2 separate regions of the Homo sapiens genome follow, and region 1 is linked to region 2. The links come from fine-mapping of genetic effects on gene expression. A gene starts in region 2. The other region holds a variant in brackets. All regions are shown on one strand. Distances are from middle to middle.

Evidence for each region.
Region 1: its variant is fine-mapped to the expression of ANXA1 in whole blood (INTERVAL, PIP 0.98).

Annotation. Positions count from the first base shown.
Region 1 is chr9:73,280,423-73,284,830 of GRCh38, reverse strand. All of the region lies in intron 1 of LOC101927281 (a long non-coding RNA gene), which reads right to left. Among named protein-coding and RNA genes, the nearest start is that of ANXA1, 130 kb to the right of the region's middle. The variant T/C (reference allele first, on the strand shown) is at 1,775.
Region 2 is chr9:73,149,289-73,153,696 of GRCh38, reverse strand. It overlaps ANXA1 (annexin A1), which reads right to left and starts at 1,832. Exons shown (of 13, transcript NM_000700.3): 1 at 1,773-1,832. RefSeq lists a cis regulatory region at 3,874-4,124.

The sequences.
Region 1 (4,408 bases), 130 kb before region 2:
CTGAACCTACTGAGTGACAAATCAGAACTGATGACTTCAAAGTTGGCTAAGTCACTGGCTTTATAGCAGCAAGCACCACAGTGCACATAAAAGAAAGAACTGTTCCCAGACATTACCTACAGTAAAATCCTCTCTGAGTTCTTTTCCGGAAAGAAAGAAAGAAGCAACAAAAAGGATTAACCTAGTTGCATAAAGAGCAGTAAAGGACTCTGGCAATGCAGTTCGCGCTCGTAGGTTCGCATCACCAGTGAACAGAAGGCTTGCTTTACCGCTCCCTCAGGAGCACGTCTCTCATTGAGTCCACATGCTGTGAGTCCAAGGCACTGTTTCTCTCGCTATATTTGGCTGACTGGTTATTTTACTTTCTTTTTGCTCTACTCATCTTATTTTGTATCCCCCTGTGAGGTGAAAACAATCCAGATAGAACTAGACTATCATACAGGACTCGTTACTTAATTTTCTGTTTCTGAATAATTCATAAAGAAAATCTTATCAACTTGCCTTTCCTGTGAGGTTGCCACACATCCAGTTTCCCTCCACACAGTGTCTTCCTTCTAAAAACAAGATAGCTCTGGGTTCTGATACTCCTCTTGAGGGAGGGATGAATGCCAGGCTTGAGGGCTTATTAACAGAAGACTCTACTTTATCCAGGCTGTTCTGCTCAGAGGCTTGCAAACATCCCACACTTACTTCTCCCTCTACTCTACTGCATACCATAACCGGGCTACCCTCCCCTGTCCCATCTGTCAAGTCCTACCAACTCCTTGAGCCTGCCTAGGCACTGTGGCCCACCAGATGCTCTCATTCTTATAGCTCTTACTGTGATTTGTCTAGCTCACTTATTTGTCTTAGTTTCATATTACCACACTGTATTTCTTACCTGCTTATTAGTTTTAAACTCTGCCTTAAGTATCCAAATAGGTATGTCCTCCATCATTATAATAACCTAGTGTATTAGTTAGGGTTCTCTAGAGAAATAGAACCAATGGGATCGATCTCTCTCTCTATCATCTCTCTCTCTCTCTATCTGTTCTTATCTATCTATCTATCTATCTATCTATCTATCTATCTGTCTATCTACCTATCTAGAGGAACAGAGAGAAACACTGAGAGAAAGAGTAACTTTTAAAAATTGGCTCACATGACTTTGAAGACTTGGTAAATTCAAAACTTACAAAGTAGACTGGCAGGCTACAGACCACGGGAAACTCACTGTTTGAGTTCAGAGGCAGTCTCCTGGCATAAGTCTTTCTTGATGAGTGGAGGATGGTCTTTGTTCTATTAAGTCCTTCACCTGATGGAAGGAGGTGCAGCCACATTATGGAAGGTAATCTGCTTTACTCAAAGCCCATCAACTTAAATGTTAATCCCATCCAAGAAAACACCTTCATAGAAACATCTACAAGCATGTTTGACCAAACATCTGGGCACCATACAAAGCCAACTGGACCCATTAAATTAACCATCATTCATAGCAAATCTATTGTGTATAATAAGTTCTCAATGTATTGAATATATATACATATGAAGAAATGACCATTTGGGATTAATAAGCCAAATTCCTACAGGGTTGGTTACCAACCCATTTTTCTAGTCTCATAATCCACCATACTCTTCCTCACTTTCTCCTCCCCAATCACTGTGTATGCCTTGCTTCTTCCTGTGATGAGACTTTTGCATGGACTGTACCCATTGTACAGCTGCTCTTTCCTTCACTTTTTACCTAACTTATATTCACTCTTCATTTATTCATTGATTTTGCAAGGAAACATTA[T/C]CAGACTCTCCAGACGAATTTAGTTTCCTGAATCATATGTTCTCATAGTTACAGACTACAATATACCTCTCTTTCATGACTTTTAAGAAAGTAGTTTCATATTATTTGTTACACATTACTTGATTAATATCTGTCTTTTACACTTGACATTAAATTTTATGAAAACAGAGAGTATGTCCATTTTTGCCCACGTTTTGTCCAGATTCTAACAGTTTCTGGTGCATAGGAAGTAATCAATACATTTTTGTTAACTTCTGGCTAAATGAATTATTAGCCAGTGAGATTAATTTTGCTTCTCTTATAGAATGCTTCTAAAAAGGCAATTAGAAGCTACACAGTGTTAAAACAACCAGAACAAAACATGAGCAAAGTCAAGCTATAATTAATTCTCTATGCAAAAGGTTAAACAATCAGTATGTTATCTGCCTGAACTGCCTGGCTACATTGCTACAAGTACAGTTTCAGAATCCTAACACCTTCCAATATCAGATATAGACAACGCTTCAGTATCACCTTCCATTAATTAACAAACATGGAGATTATGCTATTTTGAGAGAGAGGGAGATTTCTTAAATTCAATGTTATTGACCACAAACCTAGAGTCTTCCAGAGATCTGTTGCTCACTGATATATAACTGATTAGTAATGTATGAGTAAATATTTTAGACTGAAAATAAGTATCTCTTTTAAGGTTAGAAAATCTGATTATAATCCTACTCAATTTTAAAATTCTCTTTGAGTACTTGAAATTGTAGAAATTAGCCCTAGAAACGTTTGAGTTACATAAAAATTTTACATCAGTTTCAACCTGTCAGTATCTTTTTTTAATTTTTTTTTTTTGCCCCTTATCAGGATTGTTGACTTTCTCTAAATTTTGCCTCCTTAAGAGTTGAGAATGCTTAGATTTGCCCACTCCAAACATACTAGTTGTTATAATTTCACATAAAAGGTAAAGTAGAATAATTAAAATATTTCAGTGTTTCACTCTAATATTTGTATAATCCCTCCTGTCTCAATGTTTTGTTCTTTTACCCAGGTTTTACTTCAGGTATCTGTTTTACTGCTATAGTTAATCTGATCACTTATTTTTGTATGTCTTTATTTCTTCATTTGTAAAGTGAAAATGATAAAAATGTCATAACCCACAAGACTATTTTGAAAATCAAGTAAAACACTGTACCTATACATCTCTTAACTGAAAAGTACATGGTAAATCACAGTGTGATTATTATATATTAAAATATTTAAATAATCCATTTGATATATGATTGTCCAACCTAATAACTATCAATAAGCCTAAATATAAACAAAATTTAAAATTGTTATGCCTAAAGTATCAGGCTAATTATCATCACATAACCCTTCTCCTTTAAATTCTTCTTCATCTTAAATATGGACTGTTTTACCTCAATGAATATTTCTTAAAAACAAATTAATGTATAGCTGATCAATAATAGAAAATTAAGTCAGAATAACAACAGGTTGACCTAATCCATATGCAACATTCCCAAGCATGTTAATATTTTGCCCCAATTAATAACTTCAGCTGAAAACAAACTATACTAACACACCAAAAAATAGGGAGCCAGGCTGAAGGAACACAGTACAAAGTAGACACCCTGCCATCAGTCAGTTTAGCCAAATAAACAGACAGTGAAGACTTTAAGTGGGTTTTCACCATTGCATAGATATTGCTAAGCAGAAAATTTCTTCATGCACTTCTGAAATCTAATGCCCTTGTGTCTCATCTAAGAGTTAGTCAATTTTTTAACTTATATTTTATTCTATTTAAACAACCCATTCAACAAACCCTACTAGTCATTCTGCAAACTTAGTGCTAATAGCCATGCAGTTGAGTACCAAAAGCCTAGTCTTTAGAAGTAGGTAGACTTGAGTGCAAACTTTGGTTCCACCCACTCACCAGCTGACCAATCTTGGGTGAATCTCTAACTTTTAGATGCCGCCGCCATTTGTTCACCTATGAAATTGAGTTAATAACATTATCTTCCCTTGGTTCACTGTGAGAATTAAATGACATGAGTTTTGTAAAACACGATGGAACCTAAGTACTGCAGTTTAAATTATTGTTGAGACAGAGTCAATATTAACAGCGTGTGTAGTTACTTTGCTGTTAGTAAGTTGATACCCAGTTTCTAGTCTGACTTTTTCTATGTAACATAAAGTATTGGTACATTTTAGGTCATGAAAATAAATGTCCCACCTCTGTGTGAACAAAATTCAATGGATTGATTTTCATTCTATTTTGCCCAGTGTTAAATAAAATTTTGACCTCAATTATTTGCATATCATCTGCATATTCTAATCGAAAGTATTGCATGATCTGGATTGCCATCCTAGATAATTATCTCAGCTCTTTGCTTCACATTTGTGTTTAGCCTTAACATCTCAACCTTCCTTGCCACATTTATGTCGTTAATTGTGATTATGTTCAACTATGTATTACTGATATTAAAAGCACCAAACAGCAGATATCATTATCTTCAAGGAGATCCCAAAGCTTCTCCCAACCTGATGCTTAAATCTAAACCACTCAGCATGTTTGGCAAAATACTCACAACACAGCTATCTGTTTTTGGAATAAGTGCCCCTCTCCATTCTACTTAATTGAAAACA
Region 2 (4,408 bases):
CTAATTTAATGAACATTTTCTACCCACAACTATAGGATATAAAATACAAATTGAAGTATACTGGTTCTTGATTATCTGGCGATCTGACCTCAAGAAAAACATTTAGCTTCTCCAGAGGGTCTTCGTTTATAAAATAAGAATGTTGAAGTAATTATCATCTAAGATCCATTTACAGCTCTGAAGTGCCAATCTTAAATATTACTTCAAGTAGATGAAGATGAAGAAAATTAGCATAATGAAGGAAGGCATTATATAAATTGGATTGTTCTGAGCTTCCTGATGAAATTCTGTCCAATTTTAAAGGAAAAGGAAATAGTTGACTTCAAAAAACTGTTTATAGTTTATCATTGAAAAATAATAGGTCTGCTGGTTTACCTCTGATTTGAAATGTCGTAAATTAATAGGTCTAGAGAGAGCTAACGTCATATTCAGAAATCAACCTTTGCAGACCTTCTGGTTGAAAAAGTATTTAATAAGCATGAAACTCTGGCTGGTTCCTTAATAATATTATTATTAACTATTTTGTCAACATCTGTTAAATGTTGGCTATGTGCTGGATGTGGTTGAGCCTGGAGCTAGGGTGTTACTGTCACTTTTGGGGAAGAGGCCATTTCAGAATTATGAAACCAACATTTTACCACATTTGAGTCATTTGCAATGTGCATTCTCTTACAGCTACCAAAATACTCCTGTGGAAAGAGGGCAACATTGCTTTCTCAAAGTTTTTACAATCTTTTAGATATAACCAAGGCAAGAAAAATTCCATCCTTGTTAATTAGCTAGCAGTGAACATAAGAAATCAGAACATTTAATAAATATTTAAAATGAACGAACAGAAAAATTCTTGAAGGAACATGTTTAAGAAAAAAATAGCCAGATACATGATTTGTAATCTCACTTTTACAAATATATCCAACACTAGTAAATACTCTTCTTTAGTTTTGCTTTGTGCTTTTCTAAGGAGTTTTATGGCCATTAGCTCATGCAACAATCAAGTGGAATAGCTGTTGGAGGGCCTCACTGACATTCCCCTAGGATAATGTATCTGACACTACCCAGAAAGTATTTCCCTTCTTTTTAGGTTTTCCAGCCAGCACTTGAAAAGACTGTATATGACACAGAGCCTACAAGAAAAGGAATGTGGCCACACCCTCTTTAAATGAAAAAAGTAATAAGCGGACCTTCTTATTTTAAATAGCATAAGCAAATATAACATATATTTTTAAATGTTTATTACAAAGAGCATGATTAGCACTTTGAGGTCTGAATCTATCTTGTTTTCCTTACAAAAGAAGAAAATAAATTATGAAAGTCCTACTATTTTGAAACAGTTCCCTGCAGCCCACTCCTATCACTTTTGTTCTTGCCCCCAAAAAGCAGCCCCCATCACGATTTCTCTGTAAAACACACAGCTCTTGGGAAGAAATATTTCAAGGGGAAGGAAAGGAAAAACACATTCTTTTAAGGCTACCAGAGGGAAAGCACATTCTTCCCTTCTTTCTCATGGTAACTTACCAAGAGTACAATGAGCCAGTATTAAGCAAACTTATCTTATTTTTACTTGTATTTGTTAACTAAGTAGAACAAAAATATTGTAATTTGTGATTCCTAAAATATAAATATCCAATGTAATTCTACAGAAAGATTTATGAATGACTTATCATGTTAAATGCAACTAACCATAAATCCTGTAGAAGCAGTAACATTTAACATAGTGATGAGAAAAGTTTTCAAAACAACCAAAACTAACTAAAAGGAAAACCAAGACTTACCTTTATCTCTACCTTCTTGCAAAGAACTAAAGAGAAATTCTTCTCTGAAGATTTCACACTGGCAGTGGAGACTTGGGCTTCTGATTTTATAGGATTTTAAAGGAAGCCACACCTAGCAACCAGAAGTTAGTAATTGGCTGCCTTCTGTTTGAAGTACATGGCTCAGCTATGTCCAAAAACAAAGTGAAACAAGTCTTGCAAAACTACTCACTAAACCAATTCAACTGGCATTACAAAGGAAAAGAAATGGAAGGGCTGATTTTTCCTCCCTCTTTATTTTGCACTTTTATTTCCAGATGGGATATTTATTTTGCACTTTTATTTTCAGAGTATACATCTGCCCCAATCCTAATACCAGTGATTGGCACACTTTTGTAGTTAAATAGGTTGTAGACTAAAAAGTATGTTACCTTCAAAACTAAACAAACCAACAAACAAAATATTACATTTGAATTCCACCTCCATCACTTATTATTCTGTGACTTTAGGGACATACTTAATTTTTCTGAACCTGTTTTTACTTTTGTTTTGTTGTCTTTTTCCCCCGCTTTTTGTGGAGAATGGGGTCTCGTTATATTGCCCAGGCAGGTCTCAAACTCCTGGGCTCAGGCTATCCTCCTGCCTCTGTCTCCCTAAGAGTTGGAATCACAGGCGTGAGCCACCATGCCTAGCTGTTTTTACTTTTGTATATAGGAGCATTATCTAAGTTGTCTACCCACTAGAATTCTTGTGACAATGGAGAAATAACATATATTTGTAAATTTTAACATTACACAGTGCCGAATAATTTTCTATTTATATTTTTCTTGCCTTAAAAAATAAACGACTTTTGTTCCTAGATATAGCTTGTTGTTATAAATAAGAAATATAGAAGTAATAAAGTTCCAGATTGGCTCAAAATTTTGAACAAAGGTAATGCCAAAAATTTGATCATTATGACATTCAATAAAAGCATTGACATCAGAAGGCCTATCTACATTAATTCTTTTAAATAGAGTCAGTTACATAGAACTATATATATAAACTGTAATATAGATCAGTTATATATACATTTTGATACACATCTTTGACATTGTAGACTAGTTGAACACCAAAACAAGGAACTAGACCTATAAAATGAAAGGATTAATGGAGCAGCAACTATTACAGAACACATTCCATAAGAAATTTCCCACCCAATGGAGGAAAATTGGTTCTGGTAACTTCCATAGTGGTTCATTTTCATTCTTCTTTAAACCCTACAAAGTATTATATGATGTTTCCATTAAAGTGCACAGGTGTAAAATCTCACAGCATTATGGCTCAATTTATGCTGCATTTAGTGGTTTGTTCTTTTTCCTCTTTTCCTCATAGATATTTCACATAAAAAACATGAAGTTTAGGAAGTTAATGAAAATACTTTCTAAAGATTGGCAGTATTTTATAATACATTCTAAGTGCTCGATGCCAATATCAATGAAGTCAACATATCCTGAAGTAGGATGATCATCTAATCTAAATATTTAAGAAAATGTCAATATATGTTTTTACTATCATATGTGTAAGTTGAAAATTAATTAGTTACCTGCTAACAAGTTAAGTTAATTGATATTATTGCAAATTGATCTTGACAGATGTAGACTAACTTTCTAATACCATATTTATGTCATCAGGTGAGAAGGAATAAGATGATTATACAAAATCTGGTTTTCTTTTTTTCTTTAATTTGCGTTTGTATTCCTAACTCTGGTAATGGAACTATTGGAACATTCCTGCACAGTGATGCTCTTGTGAAATGAAGAAAAAATTCCACTTACTTTTTATAAAATATAACAACCTAGAAAACATGTATAGTCTCATTTTGCTTTGTTGCTGCTATTACCAGTGCCATAAACTGAATGGAATTATTTTATATGTTTGGATTTGTAATACATAGGCAAACCTAAAATAGCAACAATAAATATGATAATTGTAGCAGAATTAAGAAAAAAAAAGTGAAAAGAATGTTTTTCCAAAATTAACTTCCAGCTGTAACACTAAAGGCAAGTGAAACTCCCAAACATAACACAAAAAGAAAGCCACTAATCATGTAGGTATATTGCTGTGAATAATCTGTCAGAATCTTTTTCTCCGCATAATAATAATGTCGAGTAGATTTATGGAAATAAAAGAACAAGTAAAATATGTTATCATTAACAGTGAGGGGATAATCATGGGTTAAATGCTTTCTGTGGGTGAAATGCCACATACTCCAGAGAAATGACTCACCACTCTTGCTGTTTCTAGAAGATGATGATTCATCGGCTCCACTTACTTTACAAACAGAGAAAATAAAGAAAGAGAAGGAAAGAAAAAAGACAGTTAAAATCAATCTCTATATGTTACGTTTTTCACAGCATGTTTATTTTCACTCATTTGGTTTAGAATCTGATAGTGAAGAGGAAACAAAACAAAACAAGGAGAGGAAATATGGAGTCTCTCACATACATCTCATTGTGCATAAGACTCTTGCAAAATATCTGATCTTAGTAAGCTGTCCCCTCATCCTTTACATTTAACTCTATCTAAGCATTACTTGTTATATGGAAGAAAGAGTATATTCTGAATGATCAAGAACAGCATTTCACAGATATTCCAAAATCTCCCCACAGCTTCCT